2 separate regions of the Homo sapiens genome follow, and region 2 is linked to region 1. Evidence: fine-mapped expression QTL. Tissue or cell type: aorta. Region 1 holds a variant in brackets; the other region holds the start of a gene. All regions are shown on one strand. Distances are between the middles of the regions.

Region 1 (8,102 bases):
GCCTCGCCGCCACGTCACCGACTCTCACGGCCGGCCGGAAGTGCCGTGTGTCACCGCTACGGAAATTCCCGCCGTTGTGAACGTGACCTCGCTCGCAGAGCCAGGATCGTGGGGCAATCTGAGATTCAGTAGCCGCTTTCGTGGGGTGGGACTGACAGTTCCTCTCCTCGGGTTTTGTGAAGATTACCTGAGACCATAGAAGTCATCGTCCTCTGTTGAGACCGTACCACCACTGGGAGCTGGGGCGGTTAATGTTCATCGCAGTATTTCATTCACATTTCGTCTTCGTGTTTCAGATGTAAATTATAAGGGGTTTTAAAAAGAGGTGGTTAAATATGTGTACATGTTAATAGTGTGATCAAGCCAAGAAGGAGGCCTTTGTCTTTGACTGGAGGACTCAGAGGAATTTTAATTTTGAAACTCGCTGATTCACAGCATAGTCACGCTCAAGTTCATTAGCACATTTAAATGGCAGTTTTGTTTCCTCTTCTAAGAGTTTACAGTAAGGTAAAGAACTCAAACTTCCTTTCAGAGCAAGTAGACTTTTTTTTTTTTTGCAAGTTGACTTTTTTGACTTTTGAAGCCAAAGGGAGGTCGAAACTGCGGTGATTGGACAACATAGTTAATTAATGATTGAGTAATCATCTTAGCTGCCTTCATTCTATTTAGGTTTTTCCTGCTCTGTGCTGACGATAAAGCCCTCCTTTACAGATTTGTACTGTGGATTAAAATGTCATGCCACGCGGTTTCGAAACCTCAGTGTGAAGTACATCTTACCTAATTCATTTAATACCAAATGCCTGCTATGAAGTGTTATATTACATACAAAAAAAAGCCAGATCTAAACCACTGTGTCGGGCTGGGCAAGGTGGCTCACTCCTGTAATCCAAGCACTTTGGGAGGCTGAGACAGAAGGATTACTTGAGGCCAGGAGTTTGAGACCAGTCTGGACAACAGGGAGAGTCCCCTTATCTCTATTTAAAAAATATATATATATATATATTTTTGAGACAGAGTCTTGGTCTGTTGCCCAGGCTGGAGTGCAGTGGTGCCATCTCCGCTCACTGCAACCTCCGCCTCCTGGGTTCAAGCAATTCTCCTGCCTCAGTCTCCCGAGTAGCTGGGATTACAGGCTCCTGCCACCATGCCTGGCTAATTTTTGTATTTTTAGTAGAGACAGGGTTTCACCATGTTGGCCAGGCTGGTCTTGAACACCTGACCTCAGTTGATCCACCCGCCTCAGCCTCCCAAAGTGCTGGGATTACAGGCGTAAGCCACCATGCCCAGCCAATGTTTTTAATTAAATAAATTTTTAAAAAGTGGCCAGTGTGGTGGCACATCCCTGTAGTCCCAGCTACTCAGGAGGCTGATGTGGGAGGATCACCTGAACCCAGGAGTTCGAGGCTACAGTGAGCTGTGATCTCACCACTGCACTCCAGCCTGCATGACAGAGTGAGATCTTGTCTCTAAGAAAAGAAAAAGAATAAACCACTGTGTCAGGCCTAAAAAAGGTCAGTAAAAATTCAAATAACTAAATACTAAATTTTATACTAACCCTGTTTTCATCATTTGCCTCAGAACTTTACTAAAAATGTATTTGCTCGGGCGTGGTAGCTTACAACTGTAATCCCAGCACTTTGGGAGGCCAAGGCGGGCGGATTACCTGAGGTCAGGAGTTCAAAACCAGCCTGGCCAACATGGTGAAACTCTGTCTCTACTGAAAATACAAAAATTAGCCAGGTGTGGTGGCACATGCCTGTAATCCCAGCTACTCAGGAGGATGAGGCAGGAGAATTGCTTGAACCCAGGAGACGGAGGTTGCTGTGAGCCAAGATTGTGCCACTGCACTCCAGCCTGGCTGACACAGCAAGACTGTCTCAAAAAATAAAAAATAAAAATAAATAAATATTTGCTGTAAGTAGCATTTAACAATTCAATTCCTTTGTACAAGATCCAAGTACAATAACTTTTTTTTTTTTTTTGAGACAGTCTGTTGTCCAGGCTGGAGTGCAGTGGTGCAGTCACAGCTCATTGCTGCCTCAACCTCCTGGGCTCAAGCAGTCCTCCAGCCTCAGCCTCCTGAGTAGCTGGAACTACAGGTGTGTGCCATTATGCCTGGCTAGGTTTTTATTTGTTTGTTTGTTTGTTTGTTTGTTTTTGTAAAGAGAAGGTCTTGCAAGAGATCCTCCTGCCTCATCCTTCCAAAATGAGATTACAGGTTTGAGCCACCACGCCCAGTTAAAATCTTAAGATGAAGATGATACTTTTGGTCAAATTGTTTACAGTTTGGAGCCACTATAACAAAATCCCAAGTTATAGATCCAAAAACACTTTAAAATTGCACAGACACAAGCCTCTCAATGTTTTGAAGAGGAAATAGAGCTCAGAGAGAAACAACCTTTCTGAGGTCAGACAAAATCAGGGTCACTCTTCAAAGAGGCAAATACCTGATCTCAAACCTGCATTAGTTTAATTATCTCTTTTTATTCAGCTCCTTTTGAATGATCTTGATTTGTTTTGACCTTGGCACAGTGGTTTGATTTGGTTAAATCAAGGTTTCTTTGAACTTTGTGCTATTTAAGCAGTATCTGTGTGTTCAGAGATTTTTTTTTTTTTTTTTTTTTGAGACGGAATCTCGCTCTGTCGTCAGGCTAGAGTGCAGTGGTGCGACCTTGGCTTGCTGCAACCTCTGCCTCCCGGGTTCAAGCTATTTAAGCAATATCTGTGTGTTCAGAGATTTATTTATTTATTTATTTATTTATTTATTTATTTTGAGACGGAATGTCGCTGTGTTGCCAGGCTGGAGTGCAGTGGTGCGATCTCGGCTCACTGCAACCTCTGCCTCCCGGGTTCAAGTGATTCTCCTGCCTCAGCCTCCCGAGTAGCTGGGACTACAGACGCATGTCACCATGCCCAGCTAATTTTTGTATTTTTACTAGGGACAGAGTTTCACCATGTTGACCAGGCTGGTCTTGAACTCATGACTTCAGGTGATCAACCTGCCTTGGCCTCCCAAAGTGCTGGGATTACAGGCCTGAGCCACCGTGCCTGGCCCCAGAGATTTTAAAAAGTAGTCTAGTTGGTTAAATCAGGTTAAATCAACATAAATAATTTTCTAATAAGTAAACAATGCTTTCTCTAAAATTTGTTCCACCCCTAAGTTGCTATGTTACTGTTCGTGTCCTCAAAGCAATGATTAAGTATTTCAAATGGTTTTTACACTCTCGGTGTAATCAGCACTACAGTATTGAGGAGAGCTGGGCATGGTGGCTCACGCCTATAATCCCAGGACTTTGGGAGGCCAAGGCAAGTGGATCCCCTAAGCCCAGGAGTTGGAGAACAGCCTGAGGAATATGGCAAAACTCCATCTCTACAAAAACATACAAAAAATTAGCTGGGCATGGTGACGTATGCCTGTAGTCCCAGCTGCTCAGAAGACTAAGATGGGAGGATCGCTTGAGCCTGGGAGGTTGATTGTGCTACTGGACTCCAGCCTAGGCAACAGAGTAAGACCCTGTCTCAGAATACATATATACATATATATAGAGAGAGAGAGACAGAAGAAAAACAGCATTTGTCATCTGCCTAACCTTTGGGATAGTAGGAAGGTAAGTTTAAGTAACTGAGATGGGACAACATATTTTAAAAGTTTTCATATTAAGTATTATCCACACAATATCAAATCATTTGATGACTCATTTAAGTGTGGCCACAGAAATATGAAAAAATTATTGGTGATAGCAATTATAACAATTGCTCTTGGCCAGGCGTTGTGGCTCACGCCTGTATTCCCAACACTTTGGTAGGCCAAGGTGGGTGGATCACTTGAGGTCAGGCATTCGAGAGCAGCCTGGCCAACATGATGAAACTCTGTCTCTACTAAAAATACAAAAATTAGCCAGGCATGGTGACGGGCGCCTGTAATCCCAGCTATTTGGGAGGCTGAGGCAGGGAAAATTGCTGAACCTGGGAGGCAGAGGTTGCAGTGAGCTGAGATCTTGCCACTGCACTCCAGCCTGGGCGACAGAGGGAGACTCTGTCTCAAAAAAAAAAAAAAAATGCTCTTACCAATTGTTATTGATATTTCTTTGTTCAATTACCTGTATGTACACTACACTACTATACATTTTTCTAAACTGATGTCAGTAATATATTCTACTTTTTTATCTTTATTGTCCAGAAAAACAGAATCCTTCTGCCATATATACAACCTTCATAAGGCCATTATATGATTTTCTGCATATTTTCAGAGCCTTCAACCCTAGTTAAGAAAATTGTAGGCCCAGGGCAGTGGCTCACGCCTGTAATCCCAGCGCTTTCGGAGGCCGTGGCGAGCAGATCACAAGGTCAGGAGTTTAAGACCAGCCAGTCCAACATGG[T/C]GAAACACCTGTCTCTACTAAAAATACAAAAAATTAGCTGGGCGTGATGGCAGGTGCCTGTAATCCCAGTTACTCGGGAAGCTGAGGCAGAAGAATCATTTGAACCCAGGAGGCAGAAGTTGCAGTGAACCGAGACCACGCCAGTGCACTCCAGCCTGGGCAACAGAGCACAACCCCGTCTGAAAAAAAAAAAAAAAGAAAGAAAGAAAATTGTAAAGAACAAAATAAGTGACAAGAAACTGTTTCAGTAAGGATATAAACATTATACTAAGAATATTCCATTACATTTGATTATTTAGACTCAAAACTGGGAGACAGGCATTTCTAATAAAATTTGCTGATATGCAGAAGTGGACTTAGGCTCACACCAGAGCTCCTTTGCCTGCCTGCTCATGACTGTTGCATTTTCAGGTGATAAATAGGATCAACTTGCTTTACTTTTCAGGAAGGGGTAAATTATTTTGGGTTCTTTAATTATTAAAAATACTGTTCGGCCGGACACAATGGCTCACACCTGTAATCCCAGCACTTTGGGAGGCCAAGGTGGGTAGATCAAGAGATCAGGAGTTTGAGACCAGTCTGGCCAAGATGGTAAAACCCCATCTCTACTATAAATACAAATATTAGCTGGGCATGTTGGCAGTTCCCTGTAATCCCAGCTACTCGGGAGGCTGAGGCAGGAGAATTGCTTGAACCCGGGATGTGGAGGTTGCAGTGAGCTGGAATCGTGCCACTGCACTCCAGCCTGGGGGACAGAGCAAAACTCCGTTAAAAAAAAAAAAAAAAAAAAAAGACCGTTCCATTTCTATTTCAAACAAAGAACAGTTTCAGTTACAAACAGGTTTATAAGAACAACAGTTTTGTTTACTGAAACTCTTTTGGTTCCATTTTAAGAACAGTTCCTTTGGCCTCATTTGCTTCTGACAGGACAGCTGTTTGTATCTGAAGTCAGCAGCTCTGAAGCTACATCACAAGTACATTCATCCCCACCAAGCCTGAAAATCCCATTGCTTTCTTTGAAAACTTCTCATTTTTATGTAGCTCTTACCATTCTTCCTGCCCATTCTGGTTACTTTTCATCATCTTGCACTTGAACTGTTGGGAATGAATCGCCTTCTGGATTGCCTCTAATCCATCCCACATGTTGAATTGAGTTCCTTAACCACTGATTCCATTTTTACTTTCCTATACTCCCAGATCTGTGATTACTCCCTCTGCTTGCTCCATCAAGTTAAAATTTTTCTGCATGACTTTTCTCATCTCAAGCTAAGTAAAATCCAGAGTGCTACCCCGGCCCCACGTGACCTGGCCTTGCTACCTCTTTGACTTCCACACTCCTTCCCACTCACTCCACTCCAGACACATTTGCTATTTCTCTAGCTATTCAAGCACAAGCCTGCCATTACACTTATTTCTGTTACTTGGGATACTCTTCCCCAAGACATCTAGGGAACTCAAACTCACTCCTTTAGGCCCTTGTTCAAATATTACTTTAATTGAAGAGGGCTTCTCTAAATATCCTACCTGACACAGCTCACTCTGTGTTCCTCTTACTCTGCTTATGTTTCTTCATAACACTTATTATTGTTATATATTTGTGTCTTTTTTATTATCTTATTTGATAGAGATGAGGTCTCACCATGTTGCCCAGGCTGCTCCCAAACTCCTGGCCTCAAGTGATCCTCCTGCCTCAGCCTCCCAAAGTGCTGGGGTTATAGGCGTGAGCCACTGACCCTGGCCCTATTCGTGTCTATGTGTCTATGTTTATCTTTTTTCTTTTTTTTTTTTTTTTTGAGATGGAGTCTCGCTCTGTCGCCCAGGCTGGAGTGCAGTGGCGCAATCTTGGCTCACTGCAAGCTCCACCTCCCAGGTTCACACCATTCTCCTGCCTCAGCCTCCCGAGTAGCTGGGACTACAGGCGCCTGCCACCACGCCCGGCTAATTTTTTGTGTTTTTAGTAGGATGGGTTTCACCGTGTTAGCCAGGGTGGTCTTGATCTCCTGACCTTGTGATCCGCCTGCCTCGGCCTCCCAAAGTGCTGGGATTACAGGTGTGAGCCACCGTGCCCAGCCTGTTTATCTTTTTTCAATGGACCATAAGTCTATACATAGCCTGTGAATTCCAAGGTAACCATGTCTGTTTCCCTGTTAGACCGTCAGTGAGTAGAGACCAAGGACTGTGTCTTATTCACACAAGTGTGGGTATTCTCAACACTTGGCTTGGGGCCTCACACTTAACAGGTACAATATTCAGTAAACATTTTTGAAGGAATAAATTTAAAGTGTCTTTATCTTCCAGACTTCTGACAATTTTAATTTTGTTTTCTTTTTTTTTCCTTTTTAGAAACAGGGTCTCACTCTGTCACCTAGACTGGAGTGCAATGGCGTGATTATAGCTCACTGTAGCCTTAACTTCCGGGGCTCAATTATCCTCCCACCTCAGCCTCCTGAGTAGCTGGTACTACAGGTGCACACCACCACACCCACTAATTTGTGTATTTTTTGTAGAGACGGGATTTCACCATGTTACCCAGGCTGGTCTCAAACTCCTGGACTCAAGCAATCAGCCTGCCTCGGCCTCCCAAAGTCCTGGGATTACAGGCATGAACCACCGCCCAAGGCCTATTCTAACTCTTTTGACCCTCATTAATTCATTACTATAAGTTACTATTGCACTTATAGCCTAAACCACATCACTAGCACTTGTTTCTAAACTATGTTGGTCTAAGTTCTTTTTTTTTTTTCACTTGAGTGCTTAGTAATGAGAAGTCTCAAGTTCTTTCAGGTTCTCGACTGTTATGTTATATCGTGATAAGGCCTAATACTGTAGTTGAAGTAGTGCCAGCCCCTGTTCAGGCCCAGCTCACCCGGGAAGGGCTAGAGGTACAGTATCAAATGCCAATTCTTTTTCCTTTTTTCTTTTTGAGACAGAATCTCATTCTGTTACCCAGACTGGAGTGCAATGGCGCGATCTCGGCTCAATGCAACCTCCGCCTTCCAGGTTCAAGCGATTCTCCTGCCTCAGCCTGCAGAGTAGCTGGGACTACAGGCGTGTGCCACCGTGCCCAGCTAATTTTTTTTTTTTTGAGACAGAGTCTCGCTCTGTCACCCATGCTGGAGTGCAGTGGCATAATCGTGGCTCACTGCAACTTCTGTCTCCTGGGTTCAAGCAATTCTCCTACCTCAGCCTCCCGAGTAGCTGGGATTACAGGTGCCCGCCAACACACCCAGCTAATTTTTGCTTTTTTTTTTTTTGACGGAGTCTCACTCTGTCGCCTGGGCTGGAGTGCAGTGGTGCTATCTCAGCTCACTACAACCTCTGCCTCCCGGGTTCAAGCGATTCTTCTGCCTCAGCCTCCCAAGTAGCTGGGATTACAGGCGCCTGTCACTACTCCCACCTAATGTTTTGTATTTTTAGTAGAGACCGGGTTTCACCATGTTGGCCAGGCTGGTCTCAAACTCCTGACCTCGTGATTTACCCGCCTCAGCCTCCCAAAGTGCTGGGATTACAGGCATGAGTGGCTGCCCCCAGCTAATTTTTGTATTTTTAGTAGAGATGGGGTTTCACCATGTTGGCCAGGCTGATCTCGAACTCTTGACCTCAGGCCATCCACCCGCCTTGGCCTCCCAAAGTGTCTTTTTCCATTTCTAAACCCAACTATTTATCTACAGATACCCTGACACCACAGTATTAAAGATGTATACCTTCCCCTCTAAACCTACC
Region 2 (8,102 bases), 94 kb before region 1:
TGTGCCTGGTACATATACTTAAAATGTCTACTGAATGGAAAAACCTCAGAGCAAGACACTGAACTATGAGCTATGCTTTTCTGCATTCTTTAATATACTATAAAACAAAATGACTACATCATGGTACAACCAAAATGGACTCATTATGATATATTAGGAAATGCTGAAATGTCTTCTGAACCATAGGAAGATTACCTCATATTCAGGACCAGAGGAACTGCATTTTACTATTTCAAATTATTTGAAAATTGATAATATACAGTATATATATGTAAAGCACTTAACCCTTTGGTTAAGGACTGAAACTGCCAGGGTTTAATCCTAGCACCGCTTAGTAGCTGTGTGACCTTGGGCAAATGGTTTAACCTCTCTGAGTCTTCATTTCCCAATGGATTCACATAATACCAAGTTCATAAGAATGAGGATTAGATGAATTAATGTATGCAAAACAATGAGAAAGGTCCGTAGAATGAAAAATGGGTTTTAGTACAGTCATCCCTCAGTATCAGCAGAGGACTGGTACCAGGTTCCTCCTGATACCAAAATCCATAGATGCTCAAGTCCCTTATGTAAAACGGCACAGTAAATATAACCTACTCACTTCCTCCCATATACTTTAAATCATTTCTAGATTTTTTATGCCTAATGCAATGTAAATAGTTGTTATACTGTTTTTATTTGTATTATTTACTATTTGTTATTGTTGTATTGTTATTTTTCCCCCAAATATATACACATACATATATTTTTGAGACGGGGTCTCACTCTGTCACCCAGGCTGGAGTGCAGTGCCGTTATCCTGGCTCACTGCAACCTCCACCTCCCGGGTTCAAGCGATTCTCCTGCCTCAGCCTCCCAAGTAACTGGGATTACAGGCGTGCACCACCACGCCCGGCTAAATCCAAATATTTTCAATCCACAATTGGTTGAATCCACATAGGGTGCAGAACCAACTGATATGGAGGGCCAACAGTAATTATTAGGCTCTGTATTTAACCAGAACACTTCATTCTATGAGATGAATAGCAAAGTTAATAATATATCTTCAAACAGCCACATGGATCTGGTAGATATTAATACTGGCAATGACTTCTATGATCAAAAGCACTCATAATTATTAACATTTTGCATTTTCCATTAAGTTAGTTAATAATTTACAGATCTTTTCTTACCAAGTATTTGCAAACAAAAGCTCTGACTCCAAGAGCAAGAAGAGCACATCCCACCAATCTAAATATTCGAAAAGAGTCAAATTCTTCTGTTGTATTTCCATCCTCTTGACTGGGTTTTTCACTAATCAGCTGTTTCCTTAGCTTCATTGCTTCTTCGAATCTGGAAAGGTACTGCTCTAGGCCATGGCGGGAACCCCTCTGGACCGAGTCCGCTGTCAGGTCCCCTCTGTTCCGCTGCCGGAGCTCAAGGTTGACATCACTACTGCACTCAGGTGGTTTAATGAACGAGTCCAATTTGTCTCCCAGTTGGGTCCCCTTTACCTCGGCCACACCACCCTGCTGGTCAGTTGTTCCTGTACTGACTGAATCACCCAGCACTACTCGCTTTGAAACGGAAGGAACGCTGAGGGAGTTCAGTTTATCACTGTCCTGCTGCTTTGATTTTGTTTGACTTTCTTCTTCTGAGAAAAGAAATGTAAAAGCCTTATGTATTTATTCCATACTGGCAAACACCTTACATGTTTATGTTTTAAAATATGCTGTTGCAGCTAGAACTCAGCAGCCTCTGCATCAAAATAAATAAATACCGATTCTGCATTAAAGAAAAGCTGGTTTCGGCCAGGTGCCGTGGCTCACGCCTGTAATCCCAACACTTTGGGAGGCTGAGGCGGGCGGATCATGAGGTCAAGAGATTGAGACCATCCTAGCCAACATGGTGAAACCCCGTCTCTACTAAAAATACAAAAATTAGCTGGGTGTGGTGGCGTGTGTCTGTAGTCCCAGCTGCCTATAGTCCCAGCTACTCTGGCTGAGGCAGGAGAATCACTTGAAACCCGGGGGGAGGAGGTTGCAGACACTGCGCCACTACACTCCATCTGCATCTGCCTGGCGACAGAGTGAGACTCCATCTCAAAACAAAAAAAAGAAAAAAGCTGGATTCTTCCTCTACACCCTCAAAATGTATCACCCAAAATGAATATTCTGCAGAGGAAATAACCCAAACTTTGTGGGTAGGAGATAAGATTAGTAGACAAACTGGGAAAGATATTCAGAGATGGAGCAAGCTGAAAAGACCAACTTTTTATGGATAATATATCCCAGATGTATGATTGCATTGCCTGCCTTAGCTTATTTGGTTAAAAATATAAAATCAGTAAAGCCTTTTAAAATCTATATTTTAAAATTAGATTTCTGAATCCAGTGCCCTATGAGCATAGGGTGTGGCATATCCCAAAGCTACTGTTTATGTAGTCAGGCAGCCATTAGTAGGCACTTCAGCAGTTTTAAGACACTACTCTGGGGTTTTGTTTTTGTTTTTGTTTTAAAAAAAAGGCCAGGCACAATGGCTCACACCTGTAATCCTGTAAGCCCAGCACTTTTGGAAGCCAAGGCTGGTGGATCACTTGAGCCCAGAAGTTCCAGACCAGCTTAGGAAACATAGTGAGACCCCCCCATCTCCACACACACAATTTTTTTTTAAATTAGCCAGGCATGGTGGTGTACACCTGTGGTCCTAGCTACTCCGGAGGCTGAGGTAGCAGGATTGCTTAAGCCCAGGAGTTTGAGGCTGCAGTAAGCTATGATCATGCCACTGCACTCCAGCCTGGCCTACAGAGGGAGACCCTGTCTCAAAAAATAAAACAACCTTTAAAGACATAAAATTTTCAAAGCAAAAGAACAAAATATAGAAAGTACCTCAGGTAAGATCATAAATAATGCTTTAAGAATAAATAGCCCGATAGAAAAATGTTTCTTCTATTGTTCTAGAAGAATTTGAAATGGTTTTCTTACCTCTCATTTGAACTGCCTAAAAGTTCAGAGCTATACACCTAAAGCCTTACAGAACAAAAGTCACAAAGATATAAGGAGCTTGCGACCAGTGACTAAAGGCCAATTACTAAAGGAAACACTGGAAACTTAGATAACACTAGGGCGCGCTAATTGCTCAATTATACTCACGTGAAATAAATTTTTTTTAAAGAAAATCATTGGACATGTGTTTGGGGGAGGAAGGAGGCGCTCTCCTTAGAAATGCAGCTCCAGACATCAATCACAACAATATCCCCTCATGAGGAGAGGAAACTCTCAGGTGTGCACTTCGCACTTGCTGGGTCTCTGAAGAATGCTCACTCTCACTTTTCCCACCTTTTCTAGCCGGCCCGTAGGTGACAGTGTTGACGGCACTGAACACAAACACTAGGATATGAGCACAAGAGTCCCTGATACACGTAGGATGAACTAGCGGGCAGTTCAGTAAAGACAGGCTGATGTGGGCGGACAGGAGTTACACAGCAAAAGGCAAAAGAAGGTAGACGCTAGAGAAGGCACTGTAAGGAAAAGCACTTGGAACCTTAAGAAGGAAAGCCATCTTCCTAAGGGGAGCAGTAGACATGACAGTCTGGGGATACAACGTGCGCCCTTCAAGAAAGGCGAGGAGTGGCTAAGGAAAAAAGGGGCTGTTCAACGTAACTGGGAAGAGGGAGTGAGAGCTCTGCAGGCAGGGTGGGGAAAATCTCACGGCGAGGCCCCGGGAAAATTGAGGGGAGCGACTAGGAACATCCTGGGGTTCAGGGATGAGAACTTGGGATATCACCGAAGGGGCGGGACAGAGAGGAAATCAAAGAGCAAGGCTTGGTCAAAAAGGTCAGAGGAGTGGAGGTGGGAGAGGGAAGAATGACCCTGAAGATTCAAGGTGATGGGCGGGAGACTGAGGGGAAATCGAGGCTCTTACCCGCGCCGCTCCCGGGCCTGTGAAAGCCCATGATCCGGTTGATGCGCTGTTCCGAGTTCATGAGCAGCTTTCTCCGACGCAGCTCCGCCCGACGCTGGGAAGCCGACAGACCTGAGCCCGCTGGGACCCCCGGCCTCTCCCCGCCGTCGGTAGCGACGGCCATCGACTCCATCCTCCCGTCCACAGTCTGGGAGGGGTGGCAGTGGCGGTGATGTTGGCCGCCGCTGCGAGGGCGATGACTAGAGGCCGGGCCGCAGGGCGCGCGTCCCCTTCCCACTATAGACCCGCCCCCGAGCGCGGTCCCGGAGCCTGTGAGCTAAGCACTCACGCACCGCCCCACGCGACCAAGCGCGAGGCTCTGGCCGCCATCTTGAGTGAGGGCAGCGCTGGACGCCCTCGTGCCTCCCCAACTCTTCTGGCCCTCACCCAACAGCCCCCTCTGCTGTTCACTCGGAGGTGAAGAAAACCAGCACCCAGGGCCGGGAGTGGTGGCTCACGCCTGTAATCCTAGCACTTTGGAAGGCCGAGGCGGGCGGATCACGAGGTCACGATTTCGAGAGTAGCCTGGCCAACATGGTGACCCCCTCCCCCCTCCCCCCACCCGTCTCTACTAAAAATACAAAAACTTAGCCGGGCGGGGTGGCGCGCGCCTGTAATCCCAGCTACTCGGGAGGCTGAGGCAGGAGAATCTCTTGGACCCAGGAGGCGGAGGTTGCAGTGAGCCGAGATCGCGCCACTGTTCTCCAGCCTGGGCTACAGAGCGAGACTCTGTCTCGAGAAAAAAAAAAAGAAAGAAAAGAAAACCGGGAGTGGGAAAGGGATGGCAGTAAGTAGGTCAGCCTAGATTTGGTGCCAGGAAGCAAAATGGAGGTTGCAGCGGCAGTCGCTTGTTTACAGACCCGCGGCCTCGCCTGTAGGCAATGGGAATACGTAACCCTGGGAGCCGCACTTAAAGGGAGCCTTACGCTGGGATTTGTTCTTGGTGCCTGTTCCTCATCCTTAACTTCTCTACGGCAAAGTATACGGCTGATGTGTTCCTAGGCTTTCCTCGCGTTTTGTGCGTTTTTATTCAAATTAGAATTTCCCATTGAAACCTTTCGTGCACATTCTATCTAAATTGCCAACACTCCCCATTCCCCTTCACCTTGTTTTTTCTCCTTGTCGTTCATGACCACCTCGCATGCTAAAGATGCTCCAGCCTGGGCGACAGAACGAGACTCCGTCTCAAAAAAAAAAAAGGAAAAGAAAAGAAAAAAACAAAAAGGCCGGGAGCGGTGGCTCACGTCTGTAATCCTAACTTTGGGAGGCCGAGGCAGGCGGATCACCTGAGGTCAGGAGTTCGAGACCAGCCTGGCCAATATGGCAAAACCCCGTCTCTACTAAAAATACAAAAATTAGCCTGACCTGGTGGCATGCACCTGTAATCCCAGCTACTTGGGAGGCTGAGGCAGGAGAATCGCTTGAACCTGGGAGGCAGAAATTGCAGTGAGCCGAGATCATGCCACTGCACTCCAGCCTGGGCGACAGAGGGAGACTCCGTCTCAAAAATACATATATAAAAGAAATAAATAAAATAAAATCAGAACAAATGACTGGGCGCGGTGGCTCATGCCTGTAATTCCAGCACTTTGTGAGGGCTGAGATGGGTGGATCACTTGAGGCCAGGAATTCGAGACCAGTCTGGCCAACGTGGCAAAACCCTGACTGTACTAAAAATACAAAAATTAGTCGGGCTTGGTGGCGTGTGCCTGTGGTCCCAGCTACTTGGGAGGCTAAGGTGGGAGGATCACCTGATCCTGGGGAGGTTGAAGCTGCAGTGAGCAATGATCGGGCCACTGCACTCCAGACTGGGTGACACAGTGAGACCCCATCTCAAAAAAGTTTTTTCAGAAAAAAATAATATATTTGCTATATTGTAATGGATCCAGTCTGGATTATAGTCATCATTAATAGCAATACAGTCATAAAATATAATTTTAAGTATGTTTTCAGGCAGGAAGGAGCCACAAAGGCAAAAGAGCTTAGGGCCCTTGAAAGTCATAATGCAGCCTTGGCATTCAGTAATGACTTACTAAGTGAATGATTAGATGAATGAAGGAATTGAATCCATCAACCCTTGCTAACAGGGAGCATGGCCAGTTCACACCTGAGGCTGAGGAGGGTTTTGAAGCAGCTTACTGGGTGGGCCCCCTGCAACTAAGCCTGCCACACAATCACCCTCAAAATAAGGAAGTGGGTGAAATACCACTTAGAAGATAATAAAATACTATATTTATATTAATACTGAAAAAGAAGTGAAAACAAAAGAAACTTCGGTTTGGATTCAACAACATAAGGAGCTCAAAGAATATACAGACTGAACTTTCACCCTTGATTGGATGAAAGTTAAATCCCAGGGACATCCACTAGTTAATAATTTTAAAGTATTAGAGGAAGTTCTTCTGCATATCTGCACAGACATAGATCTCTGAGCCCTAGACTTCCTTAAAACAATTTTACACACAACTGAAAATAATGGAAATAACTGTCAAATAGTAACAAATGTGCAGAATTTGATGAGGCACAGCCCTGATCAATCAAGACGGTTCCAGAAAGGGTTTGAGGAGCTAAATTAGAATTATAGTGTTATATTCAATGATATAAGCATCAAGCAAATTATTTCCAAGTAATATTTCATTCCTCCTTGAAACTGAGGAAGCCGTATAACTGAACTTGAACAGAATTATAAAAAATGTCTGGGCTGGCATGTGGGAGGTCCAGGCAGGAGGATCACTTGTGGCAAGGAGCTCAAGACTGACCTGGGCAACATAGTGAGACCCCCTTCTCTATTTAAAAACAAAGAAAAGAGATCGGGAGGCCAGGTGCGGTGGCTCACACCTTTAATCCCAGCACTTTGGGAGGCTGAGGTGGGTGGATCACTTGAGGTCAGGTGTTCGAAACCAACCTGGCCAACATGATGAAACCCATCTCCACTAAAAATACAAAAATTAGCCAGGCATGGTGGCACACACCTGTAATCCCAGCTACTCGGGAGGGTGAGGCAGGAGAATCACTCAAACCCAGGAGGCAGAGGTTGCAGTGAGCTGAGATTGCACCACTGCACTCTAGCCTGGGCGACAGAGTGAAACTCTGTCTCAGAAAAACAAAAAAAAAGAGTCCAGGCGCAGTGGCTCACACCTGTAATCCCAACGCTTTGGGAGGCCAAGGTGGGAGGACTGCTTAAGCTTAGGAGTTCAAGACCAGCCTGGGTAACATAGTGAGACCTCGTCTCTAGAAAAAAAAAAAAATCAAAAAATTTAAAAAAATTTAAAACGAGGCAGGAAGTTTGCTGCAATGAGCCATGATTGCATCACTCCACAACCACCTGGGTGATAGAGCTAGACCTTGTCTCAAAAGAAAAAGAGTAAAAGAATGAATTGATGAAACTGCTTAAAAGAAATTCAAGAACAATTTTCAGAAATTAGCAAATTACTTCCTCTAAATTCCATAATGAGTCAAATTTTTATTTTTATAAACACAGGGTCTTACTCTATGGCCTAGGCTGGAGTGCAGGGGCACAATCATAGCTCACTGCAGCCTACAGCCTTGAACTCCTGGGCTCAAGCAATCCTCCTGCTTCTGCCTCCTGAGTAGCTAAGGCTACAGGATTGAGCCCAGATAATTTTTTTTTTTTTTGAGATGGAGTCTTGCTCTGTCGCCCAGGCTGGAGTGCAGTGGCGCAATCTTGGCTCACTGCAAGCTCCGCCTCCTGGGTTCAAACCATTCTCCTGCCTCAGCCTCCCAAGTAGCTGAGACTACAGGCGCCGGCCACCACACCCGGCTAATTTTTTTTGTATTTTTAGTAGAGACGGGGTTTCACCGTGTTAGCCAGGATGGTCTCGATCTCCTGACCTCGTGATCCGCCCGCCTTGGCCTCCCAAAGTGCTGGGATTACAGGCATGAGCCACCGTCCCCGGCCGAGCCCAGATAATTTTTTAAAAAAAATTTTTTGTAGAGATGGGGTCTCTATGTTGCTGGTCTTAAATTCCTGGGCTCAAACAATCCAATCTTCTCAGCCTCCCAAAGTGCTGGGATTACAGGTGTGAGCCCCTGGACCCAGCCAGAAATTTTATTTCAATAATTTTCTCAAGTATAGTTGTTAAACACCCTTAAACACTCAAAGTTTAAAAGAAACAGAGTGAATTAACAGTTTCAATAGG

Direction of the effects. Alleles are on the strand shown, and positions count from the first base shown. SD is a standard deviation of normalised expression in the study named.
With allele C in place of T in region 1, the expression in aorta of the gene that starts at base 4,148 in region 2 is higher (moderate effect, 0.42 SD a copy in GTEx).

The links. PIP is the estimated chance that this variant, and not a neighbour inherited with it, causes the effect.
Region 2: CAMLG starts here. The variant in region 1 is fine-mapped to the expression of CAMLG in aorta (GTEx, PIP 0.98).

Annotation. Positions count from the first base shown.
Region 1 is chr5:134,640,521-134,648,622 of GRCh38, reverse strand. It overlaps a transcript of SEC24A not described here. Among named protein-coding and RNA genes, the nearest start is that of SEC24A, 4.2 kb to the left of the region's middle. RefSeq lists enhancers at 1-190, 1-227, 238-297. The variant T/C (reference allele first, on the strand shown) is at 4,380.
Region 2 is chr5:134,734,594-134,742,695 of GRCh38, reverse strand. CAMLG (calcium modulating ligand) reads right to left here and starts at 4,148. Exons shown (of 4, transcript NM_001745.4): 1 at 3,904-4,148; 2 at 1,173-1,633. The coding sequence starts at 4,075. RefSeq lists an enhancer at 4,511-4,560.